Regions from separate parts of the Homo sapiens genome. Here all the other regions are reported to be linked to region 1. The links are microRNA targets in miRTarBase. Many come from high-throughput screens and were not tested one by one. Region 1 holds a microRNA gene; each other region holds the end of a gene's coding sequence.
The links. The annotated mature microRNA hsa-miR-6086 reads GGAGGUUGGGAAGGGCAGAG and lies in region 1 at 1,742-1,761, shown strand. An mRNA with a match to its seed (bases 2 to 7 or 8) in the 3' UTR can be bound and repressed. Matches are read on the target gene's strand: a 7mer-m8 pairs with bases 2 to 8, a 7mer-A1 pairs with bases 2 to 7 and ends in A, and an 8mer does both.

Region 1 (4,332 bases):
CTTCATCCATGGCGGCACTACTTGGGGGCACTTGGTGGGGGACAGGGGGCTCACCTTTTTCAGGCATCTAGATCAGGCAAGCTACAGCCTGCTGGCCAAAGCTAGGTGATCCCCTCTTTATAAACAGCCCATGAGCGAAGAACAGTTTTTACATTTTTAAATGTTAGAAGATGGAGCAAAAGGAGAATACCATATCATGACACAGGAAAATTATATGCTATTCAAATTACAGTGTCCATAAATAAAGTTTTATTGGAACACAGTCATGCGCATCTGTTTACTATTGCCTATGGCTGCTTTTGTACTTGGACAGATATCTTATGGCCCTACAAAGCCTAAAATACTTACCATCTGGCTTTTTACAGAAAATGTTTGCCGATCTCTGCTCTAAAATTAAGCAGTTTAGCAAATTGGGTTTCCAGGAGGTCAATGGGAACGAGCCCTGGGCTAGAATTCCCAACACCCAGCTCTGCTGGGGATGTGACTCCACTCCATTGGACTGGAGTTTCCTCCTCTGTAACATAAGAGGGCTTTGCTGAACGAGCCCTTCCAACTCTTAATCATCTATAGTGTATGTTGATTCCAGTCTATTCAATGGTTCCCAGGTGCCAGTGGGATAAAAGTGCAGAGCTCTGGTCTGGGACAAAGCCACAGGATTAGAAAGTGACTGAAATAGACAAAGAACTGGATAGTTGCTGTGCGTATACAGAGCAGATCTGAAAAGTGACACTCTACAAGGTTCAAAAACATATACTTTGGACATCTTCATGTGCCCTAGTTTTATAGATTCTTTTAACCGTGGGGAAGAAGGAAATGGTTGAAACTAATTATTGAGGAAGGCTGGCAACCCCAAAATTCAGGTTTTCAAAATCTAATTTAGCACTTACTGCGGGTTCGTTGAAATTAACCAGGTAATTGACATCTCTGGTTCTTTTAGTAGTAGGGAAGAGTTTCTGTTGTCTTTTCTATTTTCTCAATACTAACATGTAGTTCTTTATCTGCAGTGCAAGGCATCACGGGTTGTTAGCATCGGCACGTCAGCCTGGGGTCTGTCACTATGGAACTAAACTGGCCTGCTGCTACGGCTGGAGAAGAAACAGCAAGGGAGTCTGTGAAGGTAATTTTGTAAAAACTCAGACCCTGCACTTGGATCAGGGCCCTTAGGTTTTTATCTGTCATACCATGAACTGCCACAAAATTGCCAGTGGATCTCTCAGGCAAGGACATGCATAACTACCAATAACCAAGGTCTGGGTTCCTATGAGATCTCTTCCCAGACAAAATGTGGCTGACGCCATCATACTTGGCATGATTTATTTTAGAAGACTGTCTTGTCAATTATTTTTGTGATTATCTTAATGAGTATGACTGGGTTGTTTGTTTTTGGTTTTCTTTTTAATCTAAAGGAACTAAGATGGGCAAAAGCAGGCTGGTAAATTTCTCCTCTAATTATAATTTAAGTGATTTCCAATGCAATAAACTTTAATTATTAATCACCCAACCAGTAGGCTTCAGCCACAAAATAAGTACACCTTTTAGCTTATAGATTTGTAACTCACATTTTTAAAATTCATACTGCCAATTTCTAAATGCTTTCAAGGTACATATGCATATATGCAAAGATTTTAAGTATTTTGCTGATTTTTTTGTACATTGCAAACCAAGGAACCATAATTTGCCTTGGACATTGTTTCTCAGACTATGTGTTAGGAACTCCGAGAGAGGCCTCTGATCATTTCAAGGAGGTTGGGAAGGGCAGAGATGAGCATAAAGTTTTTGCCTTGTTTTTCTTTTTATGACTTTCCATAACGACCAACACTGGCAGTGTAGCAGAACCAAATCCACATTCCTCCTGACTGTCTCACCAGGGGTGTATTCCTTCAGGGCAGTAGTCTACTCTCACTGTCCCTGTGTCCTTCAGTAGGTAGCATGTGCCTCATCCTAAGTTATTTATCTATTAAATGGGATAACAACACAGTTGCAGGTCCCATAAAAGCACTAACATGTTAGCTATTTTTAGGAATAACAATGCTACCTTCTTTTTGCTAGTCTGTTCCTGCCCCAACCTCCTTCTCTCTGGCTGGTTAAAAAATATCTGGATTGACCATAAGTGGGGTCAGAACTTGATAATATCCAAAATCTATAAAACAATAGAAAACATTGATATCGTTCCCACATGTTCCATATTATGCAAAACCTTCTGCCATCATAGTTTGCTTGTGACAAGATGACAAGAGCATAAAAATACTAGACAAAAACAAAGATCATCATTGCCCACTTAGATAAAGGAAGTTAGAATATCCTCCTGGGACTTGTGTCAATTAAAAGGGTGGGTCCTCATCCTGATTGGATTGATAGTGTCATGATCAAGGGCATTGAGAACCAGACTGACGTGGGTGACCTTGGGCAAGCTAGCTAAGGTAAGCTAGCTAAGGCTCAATTTCCTCCTCTGCAACCTGGAGAGAGCAATACCTACCTCTGAGAGTAAGGAATGTATGCATTAAAGGGTGAGTTCATTACCTGGCATGCATAGAAAATACCTCATAAATTACCATTCCTTCAGGAAGGACCAATAATTCTCATCACAGACTTCTCGTCATTAAAGCACCAGGTGATGGGGGGATTAAATGTGGCTTTATTCTTTTGCTAGACACAACATAACACATTTTTATTTGAAGTCAGTCAGGTGGAAAGGGGCAAAAACCACGTGAAACACATGATTTAGAGTCTCTCTTACAGTTGCACGAACATCAGCGTCTACTGCCATAAAACTTGTGAGACCCAGCATGTCGCTGGTGAATAAATGAAGGCAAGGTGTTAAAAGGGCAAGTGCAGGGGGTTCAAGCAAAATGCTCACTATGCAAGTTTTGCAAGCTGAAGAGACGGTCAGCACACCTACTGCTCCAGTCAAATGTTCAGGTCTTAAATTGCAATGATTTTTAGATCTAAAATGTGTATCATGTTTTATCCAATTTGCATGGTCCTTCTTGATGGTAAAGTCATGTTTCTTGAAGCACCAAATAACAGGGTAGTTATTCCCTGATTGCTGGGTTTCTGATTTCTAAGCCAGAGTTGTGGGATGCATGATAATAAGAATACACATCAACCTGCCCCAACAAGGAGAGCCAGACCCCAGGCTGTGAGGTCACAGTCTACCCAGGCCTTCCCCTCTGTCCATCTATTTGCCCTTCACTCCTTTTGAAGCCCTGCCTCTATGTATCCTGGAGCCTTCTAGCTCTCAGCCTCTACCCTGTCTAAATCTCCTCCCAAGGCAGGGTCTCATCAGTTCGATATCATTAACCTTAAAATGTATGCCACTTCAGTGAGATGAAATACAGAATTGTCCATAAACAAGTACCTGATGAAAAGCTTCAGATAGAGAAGTTTGGGGGAGAACCAAATAAGACTTTTACTTTGTCTAAATCATGCTTCAATCTCAGGCCATTTTAAACACAAACTGAATTTCCCTTGCTGTCGATTGGCTGTTGAAGTCACAGATCCAAAGTTACTGTAAATTGAAAACATCTTACTGAAGCTTTAACCTTATAGCAAGGGTATTATTCACCATTTCTCCTATGTTCTATTTGGCATTTATGCTGGGCTTTCCTGTCTGGACCACATTGGAAATCAGTTTCCAGGGAACAACTAGAGGTCTTCAGGGCTTAAAAAAAAAAAAAAAGATTTATTTTTCTAACATCTGAATTTAAAGTTGCAACTCCAAGTACATATCCATAACAAAGTAGACACTGGAAATTAAATTCTCTCTCTTTTGTCTCTAAAAGTGGAAAAACCTTGCTGGGGAAGCATTTTTCCCTTATGATTTGTTCAGGGCCATAAAATGTTCCCCCATTAAAAGTTCTACAGTAATTACTTTATTCATTATTCAAAAATATTCAAATATTTAACATGTTTACAACACTATATTAAATGCTACAGGGGAAACAATGATGAATGTTTAAGTCCCTGTCCTGAAGGCACTTGGAAACAAGTAGTGGATGAAAGACAAGCACTGTAGCCAAATATATGCCTCATTATTTAATAAGACAAAAACTGATCAGTTGCACAGGAGAGGCCTGCCAAAGTTCTGTGGAGTTCTCGAAGTTGAGTGGGCATTCATAGGTGGCTGGAGAAATCTGTAAAGGCTTTTAGAAGAAGGGGCCATGCAAGGTGGTCCTTGAAGAATGGGGAGGATATGAACTACTGGAAACCCAGGGAAGAGTATCCTAGGGAGGGGTAGGAAAAGGTAGAAAGTAAAGGGTAGGTCTAGAGAATAGCAAGCAATATCTTTTGCCCACAGTGTTGCCTTTGTCGGGGGGGTGGGGGGGCTAGAAA
Region 2 (4,332 bases), not on the chromosome of region 1:
CCGCCCACCTTGGCCTCCCAAAGTGCTGGGATTACAGGTGTGAGCCACAGTGCCTGGCTATAATAACCATTTTAATATGTGTGTGTATGTCATTAACATCATGTCGTATACCTTAAATATATACAATTTATTTTTTAAAAGCTTATACAAACTATATTATCAGATAAGGGGTTAATTTCCACAATATATAAGAGCTCAAGTGATTCTCCTGCCTCAGCCTCCTGAGTAGCTGGGACTACAGGCGTACACCACCAGCCTGGCTAATTTTTTTTTTTGTATTTTTAGTAGAGACGGGGTTTCACCATGTTGGCCAGGCTGGTATCAAACTCCTGGGCTCAGGTGATCCTCCTGCCTCGGCCTCCCAAAGTGCTGGGATTACAGGCGTGAGCCACCATGCCCGGCCCTGAGTGTAAGTATCTTGAATGTAAAATCAGGAAACCCTTGACTGCCTTCAAACACATGGGGAAGGTTCAAGATCTGGAACTTGTTTTCTGTCTCTTCCATTTTGTGAAAAGCTACAAAATCAGGAACCCCTATTCCCTCACAAGGACAGCAGAGTCTGGCCTGGTCTTGGGCTGGCATAGGTTCAGCTCAGCCTCCTGCTCTTCTGCACTCATGACCAATAGGAAAAATCTTCAAGAACTGCATGCCTGTGGGGAGAAAAAGCCCACAGCTGCCTAGAAACACCAGTTGGCAGCTGGGTGCGGTGGCTCACCCCTCTAATTCCAGCACTTTAGGAGGCCGAGGCGGGCGGATCACGAGGTCAGGAGTTCGAGACCAGTCTGGCCAACATGATGAAACCCCATCTCTACTAAAAATACAAAAATTAGCCGGGTGTGGTGGCATGTACCTGTAATCCCAGTTACTCGGGAGGCTGAGGCTGAATTGCTTGAACCAGGGAGTCGGAGCTTGCAGTGAGCCGAGATCACACCACTGCACTACAGCCTGGCAACGGAGCAAGACTCTGTCTCAAAAAACAAAAACAAAAACAAAACCACCAGTCGGCATAGGGCCTTGCCTGCCCCCTCGCCAGCAAGCTCTGTTAGACATGGGAAATCCAGGTCACACATGCCCCTGAAGTGAATGCAGAGCTAACTTACACTGGGCTCCTACTTGCCAAGTGGATTCAGCCACTAGACTGGCAGACAACTGGCAAAAACTGAGCATAGAACCACGTTCCCAGGAATGCCATGCACGAGAGAAAGACAGGAATCTGTACCCGAAGCCGGGGAGGACAGTGGGTGGTCATCTCTCCCTTGACCCACATTGGCCAGGGGGTCCCCTCCCACTCGAGGTAGATGACTAAACCGTGAACCTGCTGTTTTAGGGATTGCCACGGTCACCCAGGGTGATTCCAGCCATCTTCCTCTCAGATGGACATGTCTTTTAAATATCATCATTATTAAGGGATGAGCCATTTCTAATGCTGAACAAAATGAAAAGCACATGGGCATAGGTACTCAACAGATGTCCTTGGGATAAATGAGTGTTTGCTTCTCTCCAACACCAACTCCAACGACTAACTTGGAGAAGATTGTCTACGATCATTATAGCAGCTTAACTGTGCGAATTGGCCACTCACTGGTATTTTGTTTTGTTTTTTGAGATGGAGTCTCACTCTGTTGCCCAGGCTGGAGTGCAGTGGTGTGATCTTGGCTCACTGCAACCTCTGCCTCCCGGGTTCAAGTGATTCTCCTGCCTCAGCTTCCTGAGTAGCTGGGACTACAGGCATCTGTCACCATGCCTGGCTAATTTTTTATATTTTTAGTACAGACAGGGTTTCACCGTATTAGCCAGGATGGTGTCGATCTCCTGACCTCGTGATCCGCCTGCCTCAGCCTCCCAAAGTGCTGAGATTACAGGCATGAGCCACTGCGCCCGGCTGACTCACTGGTATTTTTTAACCATAGTATTTCCTGTGCCTGAGCGCAAATAAATAGTAGGCATCAAACCAATAAAACCATGTAGTAACAATTTACAAAAATACATCTTTATTGTGTTCCAATGTTGTTGCATTATACAGATACCTAGTTATATAAACTTGGTCTTCATGTTAAATATAAACACAAAAAAACTAGAAACAAATCAGCAAAACCATCAGAAAATCCCTCTGAGCCATGAATCCTTATTAAAAATGTATAGTGGGGGGTACCTGTAGCTGTATGTTGAAGCAGGAGGACTGCTTGAACTCAGGAGTTCAAGACCAGCCTGGACGACATAGCAAGATGCCATCTCTTTAAAAAAAAAAAAAAAAAAAAAAAAAAGGGCCAGGCACAGTGGCTCACGCTTGTAATCCCAGCACTTTGGGAGGCTGAGGTGGGTGGATCACCTGAGGTCAGGAGTTTGAGACCAGCCCGGCCAACACGGTGAAACCCCGTCTCTACTAAAAAATACAAAAATTAGCTGGGCATAGTGGCGGGCACCTGTAGTTCCAGCTACTCTGGAGGCTGAGGCAGGAGAATTGCTTGAACCCAGGAGGCAGAGGTTGCAGTGAGCCAAGATCGTGCCATTGCACTCCAGCCTGGGCAACAAGAGTGAAACTCCCTCTCAAAAAAAAAAGTACAGTGGGATGATGAAATTGTCTTCAATCACCACACTCCGAAAATAGTTAACTGTAACCAAACGTAAATGTTGAAAGCAGCAATAAAGACAAAAGCGATACAGAATAAAAGCATGGCGGGGCTCACCATATCCAGGGGATTGGGCAAGTCAGATGCTTGCCGACCCCTCAGCAACCTGTCTTGTGCAAAAATGATCAGGGACTCCATCATTAAGCCCCAGGTTACCTTCACCAGCACCTGCAGGGGAACACCCCAGAAGACGAGCCCCATGGCTTCAGAACACACATTTCAGAGGACCAAAAGATGAGGAAGAGATCCACTTCACTCCCCAAAGTCTCTTGCGGAGCCCTAACTCAATCACTCAGTGACCAAGAGCTGGCAATGTACTGAATATTCACAACTGCAGCAAAAGGTACCCTCAAACATAAGGCCCAGAAACTCTTGCTGAATTTCAAAGTAGAAACGCTTGAATGTTAACCTCGGGAGCAGACATGTTATTGCGACTGCATACTGAGTCGGACCTGTTTCTCCTGCGGGTTTTGAGTCTAAGTCCACAAGGGGCCTGGGAGGCAAGCTGTCCTCCTAGTCGTCTCTCCAAGGAGTTTGAACACAGAGAGAGCCCATCATCCCTCCGCCTTTCATTGCCATCTTCAGCGATTCCAACGGCTGGAGGGAGAGTCTGGGAAGCACACAGGCCCCAAACCTGACAGGGCCGAGCCCAGCCCTGATGGTTTCCCTTCCTTGCTGGGACACAGCTCCTTCCAGCAGTTGAGAAACTCAAGGGACAGTCCCTCTCACGGGGCTGGAGGATCCTGTGGACAGCCATCCCTGTCTTTAGGCAGGTGTGTGTGACGGGTCAGTTCCGAGACTCCGAGGCTGTGGGGCTGCGGACCGTGGACATGAGGTGTGACTTGTAGGTCTTGCTCAGGCCAGTCATCCAGAACTTCAGCAGCTTGACATTGTCCTCCTCGGACGCACCCAGGATGCTCAGCAGCTTCTGTGTGTCCTCTTTGGGTCGACTGTCCACCTTGGTGAACTTAAAAAGCACCTTCACTTTGCTGAAGAAAACCAAAACAAAACACTCAGACACCACAGCACAATCCCTCGAGCCCTGGTCACGGGGCCAACCAGGGGTGACACGGCTTTGGCACCAGCAGGAGCTGTGCAGGCAGAGCTGGAATCCACACCCTTGGGGCAGCAGGCTTGGCCCCTGAACTGCTGAAAGGAGCTGTGTCCCAGCAAGGAAGGGAAGCTGTCGGGGCTGGGCTCGGCCCTCTGTCGGGTATGGGTATGGGGCCTGTGCGCTTCCCACACCCTCCCTCAAGCTGTTGTCAAGACGCCAAGAAGAAAGAAAAACCTTCCTTAAACTCGTGGAAGACACTGGTTGCTCCTAAGCTTCACTGCATGATTTTAAATCAGGACAATGTTTGATTAATAAATTTGACCCAAAAAATTACCAAGAATCGAGGCAGGAGGAAATAAAGTAAATTTGCTTACAAAAAAAAAAACCCGGGGGGCCAGGTGCAGTGGCTCACGCCTGTAATCCCAGCACTTTGGGAGGCCAAGGTGGGCGGATCACGAAGTCAGGAGTTCAAGACCAGCCTGGCCAACATGCTAAAACCCTGTCTCTACTAAAAATACAAATATTAGCCAGGCATGGTGGTGGGTGCCTGTAATCCCAGCTACTCCAGAGGCTGAGGCAGAAGAATCGCTTGAACCCGGGAGGCGGAGGTTGTGGTGAGCCAAGATCATGCCATTGCACTCCAGCCTG
Region 3 (4,332 bases), not on the chromosome of region 1:
TACTAATTCTGACAGAAGCTGAAACTAAAGCCTATGTTTTCTTTAGTCAACATAAGGCCTTTTTTCAGAGATGGTGTGAATTAATAGTTTAAACCACCAAAATAAAAGAATAGACAAGTATTTTCTTAACATATCCATTTCCATTGCTAGAGCTGCGGTGATCAGCAGAAGCATCTGCCTGGCTGTCAATATCAAGGTGGATCCAGGCTGTTGGAACTGGTGGATCCAGGGGTTGGAACGGAGGAATACTAAAAATGAGACTTGGAACTTGGAAGGCCTACACCACGAGGGCCAATTCTGCCATAAGCCCTATTGCCCAGATATGTTACATAAAACATCCAGATATTACAGTGAAAGTCAGTGTGTGGCCAGACACAGTGGCTCACAATTGTAATCCAGCACTTTGGGAGGCCGAGGCTGGTGGATCACTTGAGGTCAGGAGTTTGAGACCAGCCTGACCAACATGGTGAAAACCCCATCTCTACTAAAAATACAAAAATTAGCTGGGCATAGTGACACAGGCCTGTAATCTCAGTTGCTTGGGAGGCTGAGGCAAGAGAATTGCTTGAACCTGGGAGGCGGAGGTTGCAGTGAGCCGAGATCGTGACACTGCACTCTAACCTGGGTGACAGAGTGAGACTCCATCTCAAAAAAAAAAAAAAAAAGTCAGGTGAGAAGAAGTAGCACATAGTGAAAATGAATATAATAATTTTACAGCTGGTCGGGCTCAGTGGCTCATGCCTGTAATCCCAGCACTTTGGGAGGCTGAGACAGGAGGACTGCTTGAGCCCAGGAGTTTGAAACCAGCCTGGGCAACATAGTGAGACCCTGTCTTTAAAAAATAAAATAAAATAATTTTACAGCTTTTGGTTCTCCTGTATTATACAGCATAACTAGGAGAAAAAAAAACTATGAAATTATTTTCCCAAGACCAGTTTTACTCATCTTTATCACATTTGTTTGATGTGGGTTATCCAGGAGCCACCTACATCAAGGTGGATCCAGGCTGTGGTCTTGCATTGGGTAACAAAGCCCTTCCCAGAGGGAGGAGTCACACCATTGGGTCAAGAGTCATGAATGGGTATTTTTACATATTTATTAAAACAAGTTTCCTGAGAAGTTTGACTAGGCTATGTTGTTGTTAACCTAGTTTGCTTAAAATGTACGAAAATGCAATCAAACTTACATATCTTTTAAATATTCGAAAGTCAGATTTTGTTCTGATTGCCCTATCCAATTAGGGCAAATTAGTGAGGGTTTTTTTGGTTTTTGTTTTGTTTTTTTAACAATAGTCTGAAACATAAAATTAAGTTTGGGTTTAAAAACAATTCTTGAAACTGTCATAAACATATGATATCTATTGATTAAACAGTAATAAAAAGACACAAGGTACAAGAATTGAGGCTTGGCTGTTCTGGCTGTATACTAACTTCATATACCCTGACAGAATAAACTATCTTTTTAAAAAGTGCTTTGTACACTGCACAATTATAGCTTTACCAAATAAAAACTCAATGACATGTCGCTGAAATTTGCTTCTTCTAGAATTTGAAATTATTTAAAATACTGCATGAGAATATTTTTATCATATTATATAATATGACTTCATCAACATGAAGTTCCAGGACCCCAGATGCCTCTCTGAGAAGTTCATTATTTGATAGGGTTGGATCAAATGTAAAGGCCCAGGTGTTCAAAGATCTTAGATACCTAAAGAGAGAAAGGGGCAAATGGAGGCTCTTCTGAGAGTCAAAATGTTGATGAGAAACAAACTGAAAGTAGCACACATAGGCAGAAAAATAGACAAGTTATGATTCAGAAAACAATTGTATGCAATTTTGGCATAAATATCTGAGAGTCACTGTGGGCCATGAGTTGAAAAGGAACATGCAAGAGAGCAAGGAAAACACAAAGCCTCATTCAGATGTGCTGGTGAGAATATGACAGAAAATCTGTTGAAGTTGTGTACCATGAAGTCTGTCTTTTGTCAAAGTTCTATGCAGTCCCAGGATAGCGTGATAGCAGTGGTTAAACACAACCAGCTAGTTATAGCTTTCATTGTATGGAAAGACCTCTCTGGTCTGGAACTCTGCCTTTGAAATTATCCACGTAGTTCAGAAGGCAAATACTTGTTAAAGGGATCCCAAAAGGTAGGAGACAAGTAGTTTTTGTTATGCATTAGGGCAGACTTTCAAGCACAAGACACAAAATTGAGCAGCAAATGTTTGGGTAGTCCCATCTCCCTTCGGTTTATATGTGGGTAGTAAAATAAATAAAATTTTCCTTCTTTGTCTCTTTCTTGAAATAAAATATCAGGTATCCAAGGAGAGCTGAGGATTCTCAATTTGCTAGATTGCTTTAAAGGGGTCAGATTTAGAAAATTAAGGAATAAATGAAGAACAATTTTACTGGAGTAGGTGTGGTCAATAGGCCCTTTTCCATTTTGTGCCATTGCTTTTAGCACAAGGATGTCAAAAATATCACATAGAATGTCATCTCTGATGGACTGACAGAGACCTCCTGTTGTGCTGTGTTAGGACATGAGGCTTATCCCAGCTTGGCGGGAGAGAATGCTAAGCATGATGAGTGAGATCTGCCACAGGCACGGATATTTCCTGCTCCTCTTCTGTTTGTTTCAAACCACCTTCAGGATCTCTGAAACATAGAAGGCTGACAGATGACTCCCACCTGCACATACTTCCTACCTACATGTCACATCCAAGGGAGGTATGGTGAAACAAGTGTGAGCTTTGCAGAAATGCTGACAAGCAAGGGAATTTCAGCTGAGGAGAACATTAGTTCTTTCACTGAAGATTCCTAGTTTCTCTGAGAAGTTCTTAAGGGTGACCAGACCTGGCCATGCTAGGGTCTACAAGTTACCAAACGCCACCTCATCAGGACTGTGGACCCCTCTCACTGTGTCTTCTTGGCAGGCAGAGCTTACTGACCCCCTGGGATGGTGTATTCATTAAAATACTTGCTGTGTTTGGTGTCTTTTCCATGACATAACACTCCTCGAGAAAAGTTCCTGCTGAATGTAGTTTACCTGTCCCACGACTTGAATAATCAGAGGAAATTATCCAAAGCTGGTTACTGACCCAAAAGGAAACCATCGATAAAACAGCTTCCTGATTTAGGCCCTAAGGAATGAAGCAGAAAGGTGACGAACATTTATCATGACCAGAGTGAGTTCAGTGAGCTAGAAGTTGGCTGAGAGGAGGCAACACATGTTGATCAGAAGTGAGCACATCACCCGCCTCCTTCTCCACCCTCAGAGGCAGCGATGGATGGCAGCCAGGCCTTTTCCTAGTACTTCTCAATTGCACATTCTTCCAAGTGCAAGTGATGCCATCATTAGGAAGAGTGGGCGTTGGAAGAAACAGCAAAAGGTTCTTGTGTCTATGTTGATTTGAAATTAATTAAATTTGTATCCTCTTCATCCTCTGTTGGCAGCCTCAGCAGACTCCCTCAGGGGCTGCTTCTCTTGGAAAACATGAGCGCCATTCAGGTTTAGGATTCACTGTCACTGTAAAAAAAAAAAAAAAAAAAAAAAAAAACAAAAAAAACACACACACACACACAAAACAGTAATATATTTCTTTCTTTTTTTTTTTTTTTTGAGACGGAGTCTGGCTCCGTCGCCCAGGCTGGAGCGCAGTGGCACAATCTCGGCCCACTGCAAGCTCCACCTCCCAGGTTCAGGTCATTCTCCTGCCTCAGCCTCCTGAGTAGCTGGGACTACAGGCACCCACCACCAAGCCTGGCTAATTTTTTGTATTTTTTTTTTTTTTAGTAGAGGCGGGGTTTCACCATGTTAGCCAGGATGGTCTCGATCTCCTGACCTTGTGATCTGCCCACCTTGACCTCCCAAAGTGCTGGAATTACAGGTGTGAGCCACTGCACCCGGCCAACAGTAACATATCTCTAAGAAGCTAAAGAGAGCTGGTCACTCCATTATGGAGGTGACTGAAGAGATCACAAACCATCAGGAAGCCAATGGTGTCCAGCTTACAATTTCTGAAACGAAGGTCAGTCTAAATTTTATATCTGATCCCTGAGGAAGAAATCCATGAAAGCCAAAAAATAATCCCTAGCTCTTTCTCCTCATAGCCCTCCCCAGTGCTGATGCAGAGAGAACCAGATGGAGTTGGGGGTTCCCCGTTTAATAAATCTAATCCCATTCTCTACGAATACGTGCCAAATTGCCTTTTGCTGAAACAAATTTTCCACATGCCGTTTTCTCTCAAGAGTTTGTGGTCCTGGCATGTCTTCAATAGCCCGTTTTGTTCATACCTACAAAGGAGCTGAAGGGGCCTTCTCAGTGTCATTTAG
Region 4 (4,317 bases), not on the chromosome of region 1:
AAACTGCAGCACCCTTTGTTGAACCTGCCCACCACTGACTTCCCTCCCCTACCTGAGGTTTTCTTCTTACTCTACTCCCCTGCCCAACTTTATTGCCTTGACCATGCTCTTATATCTCCAAGCCTTACTCCCCGGCCTCACTGCTCCCCCACCCCAACTGCTGTCCTCCTCCCTGCCAATCCACTGCCATGGCTCAGTCTGCTTCTCTTCCTTCTCCCCCAGGAGACTGAGGCATGCCCTGTGGCCCTCACTTCCAGACCTGCACCGGGTCCTAGGCCAGTACCTTAGGGACACTGCAGCCCTGAGCCCGGTGAGTGTGCTTCCCTCCCCTGTGCCCACCACCAACCCTGCCTGGTACTGGATCCTTGCCCCAACAATACAACTTGTTCAAGGTCCTTGCCCTACCAGTGTGCCATCCCCAGGCACTACCCCAGCACTACCCCAGCCCTTCTCCTTCCTGTACAGTCCAGCCCCTCCTCCCACAGGATCTGCTTTAATCCAGCGCCTCTCCTCATCTCTCCCAGCCCAAGGCCACAGTCTCAGATACCTGTGAAGAAGTGGAACCCAGCCTCCTTGAAATCCTCCCCAAGTCCTCAGAGAGGACTCCTTTGCCCCTGTGTTCCTCCCAGGCCCAGATGGACTACCGAAGATTGCAGCCTTCTTGCCTGGGGACCATGCCCCTGTCTGTGTGCCCACCCATGGCTGAGTCAGGGTCCTGCTGTACCACCCACATTGCCAACCATTCCTACCTACCACTAAGCTATTGGCAGCAGCCTTGAGGACAGGCTCCTCACTCCCAGTTCCCTGGACAGAGCTAAACTCTCGAGACTTCTCTGTGAACTTCCCTACCCTACCCCCACAACACAAGCACCCCAGACCTCACCTCCATCCCCCTCTGTCTGCCCTCACAATTAGGCTTCATTGCACTGATCTTACTCTACTGCTGCTGACATAAAACCAGGACCCTTTCTCCACAGGCAGGCTCATTTCACTAAGCTCCTCCTTTACTTTCTCTCTCCTCTTTGATGTCAAACGCCTTGAAAACAAGCCTCCACTTCCCCACACTTCCCATTTACTCTTGAGACTACTTCAATTAGTTCCCCTACTACACTTTGCTAGTGAAACTGCCCAGGCAAAGTGCACCTCAAATCTTCTAATTCCAAGATCCAATAGGATCTCGTTAATCATCAGTTCCTTTGATCTCGCTGTAAGATTTGTCAAGGCTGACTACTCACTTCTCCTTTAAATTCTTTCCTACCTTGGTCCTGCCTCTTTGAGTATATTAGTAGGTTTTTTTTATTTGTTTGAGACAGGGTCTCACTCTGTCACCCAGGCTGCAGTGCAATGGCGCGATCTCAGCTCACTGCAACCTCCACCTCCGGGTTCAAGCGATTCTTGTGCCTCGGCCTCCCTAGTAGCTGGGATTACAGGCGCACACCACCACACACAGCTAATTTTTTTTTTTTTTTTTTTTTTTTTTTTTTAGACGGAGCCTTGCTCTGTTGCCAGACTGGAGTGCAGTGGCACGATCTCGGCTCACTGCAACCTCTGCCTCCCGGGTTCAAGCCATTCTGCCTCAGCCTCCCAAGTAGCTGGGAGTACAGGCGTCTGCCACCATGCCTAATTTTTTTCTATTTTTAGGAGAGACCGGTTTTCACCACGTTGGCCAGGATGGTCTCGATATCCTGATCTCGTGATCCGCCTGCCTCTGCCTCCCAAAGTGCTGGGATTACAGGTGTGACCCACTGCGCACAGCCCCAGCTAATTTTCATATTTTTAGTAGAGACAGGGTTTTGCCATGTTGCCCAGGCTGGTCTTGAACTCCTAACCTCGGGTGATCCACCCACCTTGGCCTCCCAAAGTGTTAGGATTACAGGCATGAGCCACTGCGCCCGGCTGAGTGTACTAGTAGTTAAGAGAATAAACTAGATCTAGAATCAGAGCTGGATTCAATTCCTGTCCTTCACATTTACTAGCTGTGCAACCTTGGGCACATAACTTAATGTCTTTGAGCCTTAGTTTTTTCATCTGTAAAACAGGGATAATAACAGCACCCCATAGAGTTGTGACGAGGATTGAGATAATCTAAGTAAAGCACAGTCCCTAGGACATAGTAAATGATTCATATATCCGAACTACTGTTATAATTATTCCTTCTTACTCTCCTCTTCTAGCATTTCTTCCAATTATTACAGTCCTTCAAGATTCCATTTCTTAACAGTCTCCAATCCCATCTATTCTCTGCCTTTACTATATGTTGACCATTCCAAAGTTCTTATCTCTAGCTCAGACATCTACTACAGCACTGTGATGCTTTATGCAACTAACTGTTTACATATCTGTCCCCTGCTACTAGATTGTGAGCTCCTTGAGGGAAAGGAACATGATTTATTTGTCCTTTTCCCCCAGCACCTAGAGTAGTGCTTGGTGCATGATAGTAGGCCTTCAATAAATTTTTTCTAAATGAATGAAATCTTTCTGGACAAGGTTACCTTAATCCCATGCCAGCTGTCCTCATCCTCTAAACCGTTCATAGGCAGCAGTAAATGTGCTCAGACAGTTCTGATTATGGACTCTCCTAACACATTCTAATTCTCAAACAAATGGTTTTGTTGTCATTGTTTTTTCTGGCTCCAAATATACCCACTGTATCAGTCAGGGTCTTGGAAGAAATAGATGACACACTCAAATTGGGTAATATGATGACAGTGTAATAAACGGCAAACAGTATTTACAAAGATGAGGGCAAGATTTGGGAAAACCATCAAGGAACAGTGCAAGTGCCTCTGAGGCTAACAACAACAAGGTGCTGGCACTAGCCCTAGGCATCAAGGGGTAAGGGAGGGAGTGGTTCCCAGATCACCAGAGAGTAGCTGTAAGACAGGGCTGCCAGGAAGGAGTCATGGCCTTTCTTTGGTGGAGGGGTGCAGCCAACCTATGGGCAGGTGGCAATGAGAGATCCAGGGGGATAGACAGCTCAATTTCATGCTCTTCCCATTCCAGTCTTGAGTCCCTAGGAGTAAAGTCAGAGCCTTTCATGTGGCTGGGGAGGAATTATGGAGATTGGGTATACTGGATGTCATCCATTTGTCCCACCCAGACCTATTCTCCATCCTTCTCCATCTTGTCCTATGCTTAGCAAGGCTGATTCATATGGCTGGCATCCAAGCATTCTCCTGGGCTTTGGTTTCTGCTTGGGTTCCAACAGTAGGAGGATATTATGGATTGAATTCTATTCCTCTCCTCTCCCTCAAATTCACATGTTAAAGTCCTTTTTTTTTTTTTTTTGGCCGGGCCCGGTGGCACACACCTGAAATCCCAGCTACTTGGGAGGCTGAGGCACAAGAATGACTTGAAACCGGGAGGCAGAGGTTGCAGTGAGCCAAGACCACACCACAAAAAAAGATAAAAGTTTTTTTGTTTTTTTTTTTTTTTTTGAGACAGGGTCTTCACTCTGTCGCCCAGGCTGGAATGCAGTGGTGTGGTCACGGCTCACTGCAGCCTCAAACTCCTGGTCTCAAGCGATCCTCCCACCTCAGCCTCCCAAGTAGCTGGGACTACTGGAATTACAGGTGTGCACCACTAGCTTGGCTAATGTTTTCTGTATTATTATTATTTTTTTTTGAGATGGAATCTTGCTCTGTCGCCCAGGCTGGAGTGCAGTGGCGCGATCTCGGCCTACTGCAAGCTCCACCTCCCGAGTTCACGCCATTCTCCTGCCTCAGCCTCCCGAGTAGCTGAGACTACAGGCGCCCGCCACCATGCCCGGCGAATTTTTTTTATATTTTTCGCAGGACAGGGTTTCACCGCGTTAGCCAGGATGGTCTCGATCTCCTGACCTAGTGATCCGCCCGCCTCAGCCTCCCAAAGTGCTGGGATTACAGGTGTGAGCCACCGCGCAGGCCTGTTTTCTGTATTTTTTTTAGAGACAAGGTGATACTATGTTGCCCAGACTGGTCCCAAACTCATGAGCTCAAGCAATCCTCTGGCCTTGGCCTTCCAAAGTGCTGGGATTACAAGTGTAAGCCACCACACCCAGCCAGATGTTGAAGTCTTAACTCCCAGTACTTCAAATACGACCTTATTAGGAAATAGGGTCATTGCAGATATAATTAGTTAAGATGAGGTCAGGGCCCTAGTTCAATATGATTGGTATTCTTATAAAAAGAGAAAATTGGACACACATACACACAGAAAGAAAGCCAAGTGAAGATGAAGGCAGAGAACAGGGCGATTCTTCTATAAGCCAAGGAATGACAAAGATTGCCGGCAAACCACCACCAGAAGCCAGGAGAGAGGCATGGAACAGATTCTTCC
Region 5 (4,000 bases), not on the chromosome of region 1:
AGTGAGCTGAGATCGCACCATTGCACTCCAGCCTGGGCAACAGAGCGAGACTCTGTCTCAAAAAAAAAAAAAAGTTGCACTGCACATTCACAAAAAGCCACTCTCCTTGGCTGCATTGGAGACCCTGTATGATCTGGCCTCAGGCCACCCTGACGGCCCTGTTTCCCTCTGCCCCCCTCACCCCGACCCTCCAGTCCTGCTCCTTCCAACCCCGACACATTCCATATGTCTCCGTCTCCTGAAGACTCAGACCCTCCTAAGGAAAAAGGTGCGGGTCTTGGTGATCTTTTTATCTACCCTGGTGCCTGGCAAGCAACAAACAAATATCATCAGCAGAAAGCCAGGCTCAGCTGAGATCATGAGAGCCCAGGAAGCAGTTATATCAGGAGTAACAACCTGGGTCACAGCAGGCCCAGGACCCTGGAAGCTGAGCTCCCCTATATGGGAAAGGAAGAACTAAAGCCAAACTTCAAGTGCCCTTCCAGAGCCTGAGCTCATCACTGAGAACCTCTGTCTGTCCCTTCTCCTGCAAAGAGAAGGACACAGGTGGGAGAGGAGCATGGGGTGGGAACAAGGTCAGACATAGGCCTGTGGTGGTTTGATCTGTTCCATACCTAGGATGGGGACTGGAGCCTGCTCAGCTTTCACCTTCCAGCGTTACCTGGAGCAACCCTGTGGGGAGCTGTAGGCTGTCCCCATAGACTTCTGAGATGTCTTTCTTTCTCTCCATCTGCAGGAAGATGTCAGAGCCCCAGTCTTTTCCCTAGGAGAGGCTTCCCTAGATGGTGGGAGTCCTGGCCCAGGCCACTGTGGGTTTTACGAAGTTGAAGGTCCTGGTTCGGTGATGGCACAGGGGCACACATAATAACTTCCTGCCTTTCAGGGAGCACAGCTCAGCTCCACAGCAGGACACCTGAGCAGCCAGAAGCTAGAAAGATGCAAGCCTGCCTCCAAGTGGTCACATGTCATAACTGCAGCCCACAACCCAGACCCTCCAGGCAGAGGTGCCTGGGCAGCATTGACTATGGCAGGCCAGGCAGCCACCATCATCTGGCTCTGAAGATTCCACGTGCTCAGGTGAAAGAGAGGTGCCGGTTCTACATGAGCAAAGGAGCATCAAAGTGTCACACACACATGCATTCAGACTTTCACCTTTTATCATGGTTTTAGAAATAAGGATGCATAGGCCAGGTGTGGTGGTTCACGCCTGTAATCCCAGCACTTTGGGGGGCCGAGGCAGGCAGACTACCTGAGGTCAGGAGTTCGAGACCAGCCTAGCCAACATGACGAAACCCCATCTCTACTAAAAATACAAAAAATAGCCGGGCGTGGTGGCACACGCCTGTAATCCTAGCTACTTGGGAGGCTGAGGCAGGAGAATCGCTTGATTCAGTGGAGGTTGCAGTCAGCCAAGATCACACCATTGCACTCCAGCCTGGGTTACAAGAGCGAAACTCCGTCTCCAAAAAAAAAAAAAAAAAAAAAAAAAAAAAAGGATGCATGTTCAGTGAGGTCAAATAACCTACTCCACTTAGTTTGTAAGCATCAGTCTTGGGCCAAAAGTCATGTCCACTTGATGCTGGGATTCCACTTCAATCAAATGAGGCAATTGGACTCTACTGCAGCTAACTGCTACTTACACATCAGAATTACCCAAGGAGCTTTAAACATATTTATCTATCCCTCTGACCCAGGCTGACTGAATCAGCATCCCTGGGTGTGGGCTGGGAATGTGTCTTTTCAGCACACTTCCCCAGCAAGATAAAAGTGCCTCTGTAAACTGAGAGCAGGAAACCAGTGGGCAAGATTGTCAACTCATGGAGTCAGGGACATGTTTAATTCATTTGTGAATCCCCTGGTACTGGCACATAGAAAGCGTCCCATATTATCTGCAAAATGAATGAATGAATAAATGAGCAAGTAGGTGAATGAATGATTCTGAGGTCTCCTCCAGCTTTGATGGCCTATGACCGTGTGACTCCTGCATATGCATGAACACACAGACACAGACACTACACACATGCACAGACACACATACACACTTGGAGCAAAGAGGGATGAAGCCTGCCACACTGCAGGTGGTCCTAGCTGCCTGACCTCCCTTCCTCACACACTGACACACCTCCCTCTTTGTTGACCTGTTATTTATTGTGCACCCATTGGGTGCATGGCCTAGCCCTAGGCCCTGGCCGGAGACCCAAACATGGCCTCCAAGGGCCAACCTTACTTTGTGGAGGTGCAAGCCCCAGAGCTGGTTACAAGCATGGGAAGGGAGGAGGGTGGCCTAGCAGGAAGGCTGGGGAGGCAGTGTGTCAGCCGGCAGGCAGCAGCGGGTAGCAGAGGCCCCCTCTTGGCGGGCAGCCTACTTGCACACTTGGCTGAACAGAGACAATGGTGGCTGGTCCCTCCGGCCCAGCCTCCTTCCTACAGGCAGAGCCCCAAGTCCATGAGTCTCCGGAACCTCCCTCAGAGAACAAGCCCAGCTGGGAGGCAGCCAGAGGGCAGGATGAGGGGATTTCCCAGGGGAGAGCAGCAGAGACCCTCTGAGCTGCCAGAGATGGGGAAGGGGTCCAGGCACCCCACAGGAAGGAAGGTTTAAGGCATGTGTAGAAAGGAGCACAGAAAAGTCTCCCGAGCCTGGCCTAGGCCTCGCCTGGTCGCCAGCCTCCGTCCCATCCCTCACAACTCTCCTGAGCTGTGGCTCCTGCCAGGCAGACCCCTAAGGGAAACTGTCGCCACCTTTTACCTCTCTATCCTCTCCAGTGGTCTGAACATAGAGAACCTCCTTCTCTGCTCTGTTGGAACAAAGGCTCCTTGTTCCTAGGGTTCCAGGGTTCCCTGCAAAGCTCTGGAGGCCCCACCCCGCCCAGCCCTCACTCATGCCATCAGCTCTGCTCTGTTGATGAGCAGTTGGGTATGTGAGACTGTTTCATCTACTTCGGGGGAAAGGAGACACAAGGAGACAAAGGCACAGGGCCCCACAGCCGTGCAGAGCCCTTGAAGCCCCCCGAGGTCCCTGCCCAGAAGGCTGTCCCCTCAGTGGGCAGGACCTTAGCGACCCTGCTCCCTGGGTCACAGGAGGCTGGTTAGGAATTTCTCAAGAGTCCCTGATTCACTCTCCTGGGGCCTCCCCAGGAAGGTCACCTAATTCCCAGAGCAAGACCATCCTTGGGGCTGTGGCTCCCCTGGCTGGGCTGCCCAGGGGCCTCTGCTGCCCCAAGCTCTCCCCCAGAAGCCAAGGGCACACCACATAAGCACTGGTTCTCAAACAAGTGCTGAGTTCTCAGCAAGTCTAGGAAATGAGGCCACTCTGGATTCTGGGGCCTGGAGGGTGACATGGGCTGAGCTCTGGGAGGAAAGTCAAGTCCTCACCTCCCTCTTCCCTTGGGCGTGGCCAGGGACTGGGGCTGCGGAGGGACTGCCATGGGGGTGGTGGGGAGCACAGCAATATTAGGAAAGCTTCAGGGAGCACAAGAATGAGGGCCACAGGGAAACAAGGTTTGTCCTTCAGCAGGGAAAGGAGGTGCCTCATCCGTCATGGTGGACTCATTGAAATAAGTCTCCTCCAGGGAGGTTCATCTCAGGTCTACCCTGGAGCAGGGAACAGTGTCTCTGAGGTGGTGCTGGCTTCACAGCTGATTGCGGTTCCGCTTAGGGATGATCTTCCGGTAGGTTCTGCGCTCTGAGATGTTGCGCTTCACCTTGGCCGTGGTGGGAGCCTCATCCTGGTGCAGGGACGGGCTCGAGTGGGACTTCTTCAGGCTGAGCTTGGGCTCCCGAGTGCCTCCAGCTTCCCTCCCCAGCTGCTCCTCCCACAGGTCCAGAGCATCAGAGGGGCAGTGCAGGCGGGCCACCAGCAGCTGCACGTAGGTCTCGTAGCGGGTTTTCTGCAACACACAGGCCCCACCACCTTAGCACCATCCTGGCTCCAGGTTGGGAGGAGGCTAGAATCGTGAGGGACAGCTCACAGGTACATGAAGCTATGGCGATACAGACCTCG
Region 6 (4,332 bases), not on the chromosome of region 1:
GACAATCTTGTCTTTTGCTATTAAAAACCTATGGTTAGCAATTGCTAAAGAACTGTGGAGACTCTAGAAAGAGGGGGGTGGTACATATGTTCAATTCTTTTTTCCAAACATGTCAATAGAACAGAAGGTACAGTAGTTTATGAATGCCAGAACTAAGCAAACTAGTGGTTTGCTTTTTTTAACATGCAAAAAATTCTTCACACAGTATTAATTATATTATTTTTCAAGTGCATTGGGTTTGACTGTAAGAAAATTAATTATTGGGACCAGAAATTAATAAGACATGATTAAAAGTTCCTCCAGCAAAAGTCATGTTTGCAAACTACCTAACTCAACCCTGATTACCCATATGTAGAAACTTCACACTTACATCACAATTAAAGACATAAACTGAAATTAGTTGGCTGATTTTTGGCTTCCTCTGATTAGTCATTCACAGAGCAACAGTGGGACCTTAAAACTAACAGTTTTCCCAGCTATTTACCTCTGGAGTTCTGTTACGGAACTTGTTGGCTTCAACAATGAAGGGAAATTGTGCTGCCTATATCCCATCAATTAAAAATAGGATAGGAATTTATTTTTGACTATAGTAGTTCTGCCATTCAATTGGTACAAGCAGAGGGTAATGCTGGTTAAATTAAGACTTTTTTTTTTTTTTTTTACAGTTATACTGTGGAAAGTTATTCAAATTTCAAATTTATTTACAGTGTTTGAAAAGCACACAACAGAAGATCTTCATTTATGCAACAAGTCAATCATTTGCAGTATGTATGGAAAATAAAAATCTAAGGTAAGTCAAACATACAAACTCTACCTCTTGCTTTCTCCATTAGAATATACACATTGGAAATCTAAGTTCCAAACAGTTCCTCTCTACTGAAGATAGTGAAATTTAGTGCAAGCCCCCTAATTACCAATTTTTTGGATGCTTACAAAATGTTGAGCCTTGATGGTGGAAGAGGATTCTATTTAAAAGAGATGACTATATTTTTAAAAGGCTAAATTGACTCAGTTTATTTTCAAAAGAAGGGTTGATCCATGTTTTCAGTTTATTGCCATACAGAAAACATTTTATAAAATAATATGGTAGACTTCTACTTCAACATATTCACGTAAAAACATCACAGTGCAAGAAAGTGATCACAATTAAGCATGAAGACATCAAAAGCCAGCCAGTATTTTAACTACAGAGCAGAATATTCTTGCTGTCCCTTCCTAGAAAATGTTGGCACATTCATTAACTGCTCAGGTTACAAAAATCACTTCGTGTCCACTTCCTGTCCTTCAATATATTTTCATAACTACACTGTGTTACATTAATGCTGGTGGACAAATTAGCTCCTATAAAATCTAAAAACCTTTCAGGTGGCACAATGATTTAAAACCAACTAGGAAAAAGCTCTCCCAGAATATTTTTGTATGTAATATTCTGTCCATTACCACAATAACAGAGTAAAAAGCTGTTTTACCTTAAAAATAAGCTAAAGGAAGATAATTTCATTTTTCCTTTAAAACATTTCTTAGCTTTTAAATAGAGAGAAAAAGTTTAAATTTTCTTGGGGGAGGAGAATATTTCATAAGTAAAAACATCAAATGTTGTACAAATGTTTCATTTAGGAAACAAATACTTAGATTCAAAGGATTCTAAAACATTTCAACATTATAAGAAAACTGTAATTTAAAGCTAAAAAATTGTAATACATCGAACTAATATAAATTACTCATTAACATGTTCTATTGTTTTTCACAAAATCCATAATTAAGGAATAGTGGGTTAGGTGAGACATTTTTCCCAACATTTGGTCAGATTAGCTAAGCAGCTCTGGGCAAAGGATGCCTCCTCTGAATCAGGATCTTGGCCTCTTAAATGAGGGCACTGGACTAACTGCCCATTCACATCCCTCTAATCTACACATTTATCACAACTGTTCATCTTATATAATCCTTCCAAGGATGAAGTGTTTCAACTCAGTGTATTTTCCAGACAAAGCTCCCCTGTTTAAGTGGCAAAACTCTTCTTTAAACTTTAAAATTTTTACTTTAAAATGTTATTTCCAATATTATTTCCTGCCACCTTAGAAGATGTTGAGGGATAACTAACAACACAGTCTCTAAATGACACAGTCTCCTGGACTTGCCAGCTGATGACAGGATCTGCAGATACGTCTCAGGCTCTGCTCCAATTCTGAGCAACTCTGGGCCACACTGAGTGAGAAAGAGAATGATACCACCTACACTGTATCGCTTTGTTTCAAAGACCAATAGAGTTATAATATATCAAAGTATTTGTAAAGTACAAATTACCATACAAATGCCAAGGACTGCTGTAATAAACCTAAGCAAACTTTTCCCTGATAATGAAATCTGGATAGTTTTAGAAAATATATGTTGTTTGTCAAGACTTGTGCAATAGGCCATGTGTGGTGGCTCACGCCTGTAATCCCAGCACTTTCAGAGACTCAGGCAGGAGGATTTCTTGAGCTCAGGAGTTCAACACTAGCCTGGGAACATACTGAGACCTCATCTCCACAAGAAATCAAAAAATTAGCTGGGTGTGGTAGTGCACAACTGTAGTTCCAGCTATATGGGAGGCTGAGGTGGAAGGATTACTTGAGCCCAGAAGATTGAAGCTGCAGTGAGCCTTGACCATGCCACTGTACTCCATCCTGGGCAAAAGAGCGAGACCCTGTCTTGAAAAAAAAAAAAGAAAAAAGAAAAAAAGACACGTGCAATGATGGCTCTGATGCTTTGGTTACGTGGCATTTTGTTCTTCTGCTTCTAATTATGCTTCTAATTGCACCAGGTGTGGGATTCAGTTTCTGTCTCCTCGAGTCTATAAATCTGACTTTAAATAGGTGGAAACCAAAACCTACAGATGTTACTTTAGCAAATGCTGTGTCATCACTGTTTACTTTGAAAGAGTGGTTCCCAACCTAGGGTAGGCATCAGACTTACCTTGGAAGCATTTTAAAAAGTGAGATTTCTAGGCTCTAGCCCTAGGGATTCCGATTCAGTGTATCTGGAGTAGGATGCAGAAAAGCTCTATTTTTTTCCAAAAGCTTTCTAGGTAATCTCAACAAGCAATCAGTTCAGTTTTGGAGACATATTACTTTGCCCTCAATTTCTTCTCTATTTTAGTAGCTGCTAGTTTGTTTGTTTGTTTTCAGTATAAAAATTTCCCCTTGCATTAATCAGAAGTACACTTAGAAAAGATGGCCCATGATTTTGGCATAGATCCACAGAGAGCTAGTCATTACACTTCTTTACAATAAAATTTAAAAATGGTAAATTAACCTCAGAGCTAAGACAATGCATGTAGACGCCGAAGGGTGGCTGGTTCTGTGATTACAGGCCAACTGTTTTCTGCTTTACTTGTAGTCAAGTCACTGATAAACATGAAGACCATATTACAGCTGTCACTACCGAATAAAAGATGGCAGAACTCCTCCAAATAACAGGAAGATGGCTAACCAGCTAATCACTATCATTTAGAAAATGTTTCTAGCAAACATAAATGAAAGTATTTCTTAAAAAAAAAAAACTAGTTTCCTATAGAAACCCGAAGATTTCCACACTTCTGAAGTCTACCACAAAGTGAAAAGTTGCCCAAAACTACAGTTGTTTAAAAATATGTTCAATTAACTGTGAAAATATAAGTGTAAAATAGGTGCAATTTCATCCTTTAGGAGGTTTAACGGGCACAAATGGAATTCAGTTTCCATTTATTCTACTCAAATAGTTTTGTGAAAACGATAAATAAAGTACTTGGTATAATATAGTTCTGAACACCATACCTTCCAAATTTAATACAAAAGCCACATTTGGATTTTCCGATGTCCCAAGTGTGTCTAGGCACTGCGGAACGTCGTCATGTCTTTGGGTTCTCTGCTGGGGACGCACCAGTCATCAGCCTCGTGGTTGGTGTTGTAATGCTTCCAGGCAGCTTTGTTATACACTGGGAGTCTTTCTATTGAGTCTGTTGACAGAGCCTGAAAAAGAAAAACCTAAGACCTATTAAGTCTGGCATTTTTTAGAATTCATTATTTGAGAAAATAGACAATGGCAAAAAGGTTACGACAAATTAAATAATATTCTATTAGTATCTTATTAATCCTTATACCACCTAAATATACTTTTAAATGGTATGTATATTTGAAACGTGTTATTTATGAAATCTATGGCACTGACTGATGTGCAGGTTGACTGAGTTTGTTGCTTACAGTAATTCCCCAGCCATCCTGGAAGCTGCTGGACTGAAATTTTACACAAAACATGACCCAGATCAGAGTTGGCTAACTGAAGAAGTTGGTTAAATGTAAAAGCATACAAATC
Region 7 (4,332 bases), not on the chromosome of region 1:
TGAATTTACACTTTCCATACAGTACTACTCTGGGGCTCTGAAGAGTTAAGAGAAAGAAATCCTCTTTAGCCATATGGGGAGGGAAAGGGCCACAGTCCTTCCAGCCAAGAAGGAATGGTGGTGAGGAATCAATAACAGGCAAGGGCGGGAAAACGGGACAGCTCCTCTGGCACTCCAGAATGAAAGAAATGAAAATGCATCTGTTACATTTATATTCAAATATATAAACACCTGCTCCTGATAACACAAATGATTTGGAGATAGTTGTGATTTGAATAGACTGTAGCTCTGTCTCCTGCTTCTCCTCCTCCTGAAAGCCCTAGAATCTCTCAAAGAGGGTGACCTTTCCTTTTCTCTTTTACTGAAATGAATTGTAATGACACTGATAGAGCTGATTTCCCTGGTGATTAGGTAGGTGTTAAATGTGTCCATAAAAGATAACAAGGTGGTATACAATCCAAAGGGGATGGAATTAACACTTGGTATTGAAAACGAAGATGAAAATGCCATAGATACTACACCAAGGGGAATGGCAGATCTTCACCCAACATCTGGGATCTTGATACCTTTCATTATAACTTACAGGTTTTAAAAATTCACATGCCAGAGCCCCTAAGGAAATCATAGTGTTATAAAAAGAACTGAATATACAACTGGCAGATAATAAAATTAGACATATTTAACTCCTTAGGCATAGAGAGCCCAAGTTTTTTTCTTTTTTTAAAATAATAGGCTCATAGCTATTTACACACATTTAAAATACTCTAGAACCACTTGATCATAAATTATTCGCTATCATACAAATTCATCACATAACTTAAGGGTAATTGTTGGAGCAAATGCTTCTAAAACAAGTTTTGAGGATATGACAGACTAGTAAGTTTATTTTAATAAAAGTTATTTTAATAAGAAATAACTCAGATTAAAAATAAACGGGAGGGGAGAAAAAAATAAACTGAGAAAGTATGCTTACACAAATTTTTTAAAAAAGCGATTGCTTGGCTGGGTGCAGTGGCTCACACCTGTAATCCCAGCACATTGGGAGGCCAAGGTGGGTGGATTGCTTGAGGCCAGGAGTTCGAGACCAGCCTGGCCAACATGGTGAAACCCCATCTCTACTAAAATTACAAAACTTAGCCAGGCATGGTGGTGCAGGCCTGTAATCCCTGCTACTCAGGAGGCTGAGGCAGGAGAGTCACTTGAACCTGGGAGGCGGAGGTTGCAGTAAGCCGAGATTGCAGCCTGGGTGACAGAGTGAGGCTCTGTCTCAAAAAAAAAAAAAAAAAAAAAAAGTTATTGCTATATTTCTGAGTTTTTTCTTAGTCAAATATAAATTCCTATCTCTGTTTTTAATTTACTACTTCCAATCCCCTATGTATGTGGGCTGAATGATAAAGAAGTCTCTACCTCTTGTAGACCCTGGAATTGGGAAAAACAGATCTTTCTGATTTGTTCTTTGTGCTTCCTAACTTCATTACGTTTTATGGACTCCTGAAGCAGTGATTGTTTCTACCAAAAATCCACTAACTCTTGATTATGGAACTCAAGTCCATCTAAAAGTCAAAACAAAAACCATTTCTGCAAATATTGTTGACAGCTATTGCTATAGAATAAGACTGAGAAGAATATTCTTAAATTCCTTTATACTGTACTTCTGGATGATAAAAGTGGAATAATTCCTGTTAATTTTATCAGCAATTAATGGAGATTGACTTAGTTTAGATACACTATATAATTGATAACATGTAATACATATCTGTTATATGTATAAAACATATTATATGAAGGCCAGGCATGGTGGCTCACGCCTGTAATCCCAGCATTTTGGGAGGACAAGGCAGGCAGATCATGAGGTCAAGAGATCGAGACCATCCTGGCCAACATGGTGAAACCCCATCTCTACTAAAAATACAAAAATTAGCTGGGCGTGGTGGCGCACACTGGCTGTAGTTCCAGCTAATCTGGAGGCTGAGGCAGGAGAATCGCTTGAAGCCAGGAGGTGGAGGTTGCAGTGAGCTGCGACTGTGCCACTGCATTCCAGCCTGGGTGACAGAGTGAGACTCCGTCTCAAAAAAAGCCACAAAAAACCCCCAAACCAAACATATTATATGAATATTTGTGTTCAATAAAACAATAACACAATAAAAATGATGTTTTATTATTAAAATGATCTTACAATGTCAACATCAATGTTAATAAAAATATATAATAGGCTGAATTCATCAATGATAGAATAAGTTGTAATTCACTTGGAGGTTCCATCTTTCAAAGTAAGCCTTTCATAGATAAATGAAAATCCTTTATTTTGTAGAATTTTAAAGATTGTTAAAGGCTGGGTCAAGGCAAAGCCACCTCTATTAGAAGGGGAAAGAAAAGCAAGATGAAACAAAATATGTTATCATACATATCGCGTGTGCTATGAGCATCTTTCTACTCCTGCCAGATTGAAAATTCTAGGTTTCAACATTCTTCAGGATTTAACAAGTCAAAATAAAAGCAGAATTCAAATCTAGACAGATGTAAAAGACTTCAGTTTCAAATTGAAGTTGATATTTTTCCTCTTCATAGTATTTGGACTTTAAAATAAAAAAAAATTAAATCTTACTCTCTACTAAGGTATTTATGTATTGAGATTATGGGTTCTTTTCATATTGAATTTTAAGAGATGCTGCTTTGCTGTCTGCATTTTTAGGCTTTTAGGAGCAACAACATTTATGTACAATGAATCAGTACAGGGTTGGTGACATGACCCTTTAAAAGCAAAGATACATAAAAAAGATTTTTTTCAAAAAATATTTTAACACATAGGGGCTTGCTTTGTATATACATGCTATAGTTAAAGACAAAATGTGGATTAATTATTATATTTGGGAAATAGATATTTATTTGCACTAATTAGCTGTGTGTGTGTATGAGAGAGAGAGAAAAAAAAAGAGAGAGAGAGGTTATTTTTCAGCTTAAATAAGACTGTAACTTCCTGAGAACTCTCTCTAATTGGGTAAAATACTGATTGAGATATTCAGTCTCCTTACCAGGAATTGTAAGAAAGTCTACTTTGTACATTCATGAGAAGCTGAAATAGATTATTGTGTAATAACCGAATGGAACATCTGTTTAACCAGATGTTTTAGTTGAGAGAAGTGTAAACATGATTCTAAATGTATAAATATGTTGGTTATTCTTCCTTGTCTGGGAGGTTGTGCCAAAGTTTACATAGATTAGAGGAAAGGCTGGGTCTGGAAAAATTCAAAAATATTACATAAATGCAGAGAAAGTAATACAATAAGGTCAGTTGGCAATGATTTTAACAATTATTTACAGGGCCTTCCTTTGCTTCACCTCATGGCTCACATACAAGTGACCTGAGTCACTCCATCTTCCTGATCAAACTGTCCGTCGTCTAATTCCCGGAGGACGTTGTCACTGCTGCTGAACCCAGAGAAGCTGTTGTGCTGTGCCAGCCTTCCCTCCTTTGTCCAGCATTCCCGGGAGGGAGAAAGGCGGCACTCCTCAGGCAGGTGTCTGCTCTCTGCAGGTTGTGACGAGGTTGTGTCTAATCCGATGCTTCTACTAGTGGCTTTATTCTTGTCTTCACCTTTTATGTGGCGGCTGGCTTTCTTCTGAAACACAAGACATTGGTGACCAGGAGAGTTAAAAAGATGGGTGTTTCCTGTCCCTCTGGTCTAGCACATGCTGCCTTTCTGCCTCCAGGAATGTCCTTTTCCCCAGCTCTTCAAAATCCTGCTCATCTTCAACGACCAGCTCAGAGCTACCTCCACATTCCCCTCTCCACCCAAATACAAATGAACTCCCTTCTCCCTGTTTTGTAACTCTTTGTAGGTTCCTGGCACATCATTCTTGTTGATGGGTATGTTATGTACACATCTCGGCCCTCAGTGACATCTCTAAGGAAGGAAATTTGTTGAAATCATACTTTGGGAGAACAAAGCAAGGTATAAATACTAATATGTTTTTCTTCTTAGTGTTAGTTCAGATCTATACAGCAGAAAAGGTGCTTTGATGGCCACCTTACACCCATGTCATGTAGACACAGGCTGCACAGAAGAGTCACAGTGATATGGTTTGGCTGTGTCCCCACCCAAATCTCATCTTGAATTGTAACTCCCATATTTCCCATGTGTTGTGGGAGGGGCCCAGTGGGAGGTAGTCAAATCATGGGGGTGGGTCTTATCCCATGAATAAGTATCATGAGATCTGATGGTTTTATAAAGGGGAGTTCCCTTGCACATGCTCTCTCTTGCCTGCCACCATGTGAGACATGACTTTGCTCCTCATTTGCCTTCTGCCATGACTGTGAGGCCTCCCTACGTG

Region 2: the mRNA of FLCN is a reported target of hsa-miR-6086. Seed matches in the 3' UTR shown: 7mer-m8 at 2,482-2,488.
Region 3: the mRNA of TMEM154 is a reported target of hsa-miR-6086. Seed matches in the 3' UTR shown: 7mer-m8 at 582-588.
Region 4: miRTarBase lists MPL as a target of hsa-miR-6086. Seed matches in the 3' UTR shown: 7mer-m8 at 1,367-1,373 and 7mer-m8 at 1,543-1,549.
Region 5: miRTarBase lists PSD4 as a target of hsa-miR-6086. Seed matches in the 3' UTR shown: 7mer-m8 at 1,396-1,402.
Region 6: the mRNA of PDK1 is a reported target of hsa-miR-6086. The part of its 3' UTR that is shown has no 7-base or 8-base seed match.
Region 7: miRTarBase lists RFTN2 as a target of hsa-miR-6086. Seed matches in the 3' UTR shown: 7mer-m8 at 3,194-3,200, 7mer-m8 at 2,003-2,009 and 7mer-m8 at 1,216-1,222.

Annotation. Positions count from the first base shown.
Region 1 is chrX:13,588,552-13,592,883 of GRCh38, forward strand. MIR6086 (microRNA 6086) reads left to right here and starts at 1,741; the gene lies at 1,741-1,795. EGFL6 (EGF like domain multiple 6) reads left to right here. Exons shown (of 12, transcript NM_015507.4): 2 at 1,005-1,117.
Region 2 is chr17:17,210,238-17,214,569 of GRCh38, forward strand. FLCN (folliculin) reads right to left here. Exons shown (of 14, transcript NM_144997.7): 14 at 1,975-3,619. The coding sequence ends at 3,418. Among named protein-coding and RNA genes, the nearest start is that of PLD6, 6.1 kb to the left of the region's middle.
Region 3 is chr4:152,625,036-152,629,367 of GRCh38, forward strand. It overlaps TMEM154 (transmembrane protein 154), which reads right to left. Exons shown (of 7, transcript NM_152680.3): 7 at 1-3,526. The coding sequence ends at 3,511. Among named protein-coding and RNA genes, the nearest start is that of TMEM154, 53 kb to the right of the region's middle.
Region 4 is chr1:43,351,994-43,356,310 of GRCh38, forward strand. MPL (MPL proto-oncogene, thrombopoietin receptor) reads left to right here. Exons shown (of 12, transcript NM_005373.3): 11 at 223-310; 12 at 525-2,473. The coding sequence ends at 779. It overlaps CDC20-DT (CDC20 divergent transcript), which reads right to left. Exons shown (of 4, transcript NR_183650.1): 4 at 2,691-3,013. Among named protein-coding and RNA genes, the nearest start is that of CDC20-DT, 4.5 kb to the right of the region's middle.
Region 5 is chr2:113,201,045-113,205,044 of GRCh38, reverse strand. PSD4 (pleckstrin and Sec7 domain containing 4) reads right to left here. Exons shown (of 17, transcript NM_012455.3): 17 at 1-3,887. The coding sequence ends at 3,630. Among named protein-coding and RNA genes, the nearest start is that of PSD4, 29 kb to the right of the region's middle. RefSeq lists enhancers at 721-770, 1,111-1,160.
Region 6 is chr2:172,595,486-172,599,817 of GRCh38, reverse strand. PDK1 (pyruvate dehydrogenase kinase 1) reads right to left here. Exons shown (of 11, transcript NM_002610.5): 11 at 1-3,989. The coding sequence ends at 3,849. Among named protein-coding and RNA genes, the nearest start is that of PDK1-AS1, 41 kb to the right of the region's middle.
Region 7 is chr2:197,568,661-197,572,992 of GRCh38, forward strand. RFTN2 (raftlin family member 2) reads right to left here. Exons shown (of 9, transcript NM_144629.3): 9 at 1-3,620. The coding sequence ends at 3,348. LOC124907952 (a long non-coding RNA gene) reads left to right here. Exons shown (of 2, transcript XR_007087918.1): 2 at 3,322-4,332. Among named protein-coding and RNA genes, the nearest start is that of MOB4, 55 kb to the left of the region's middle.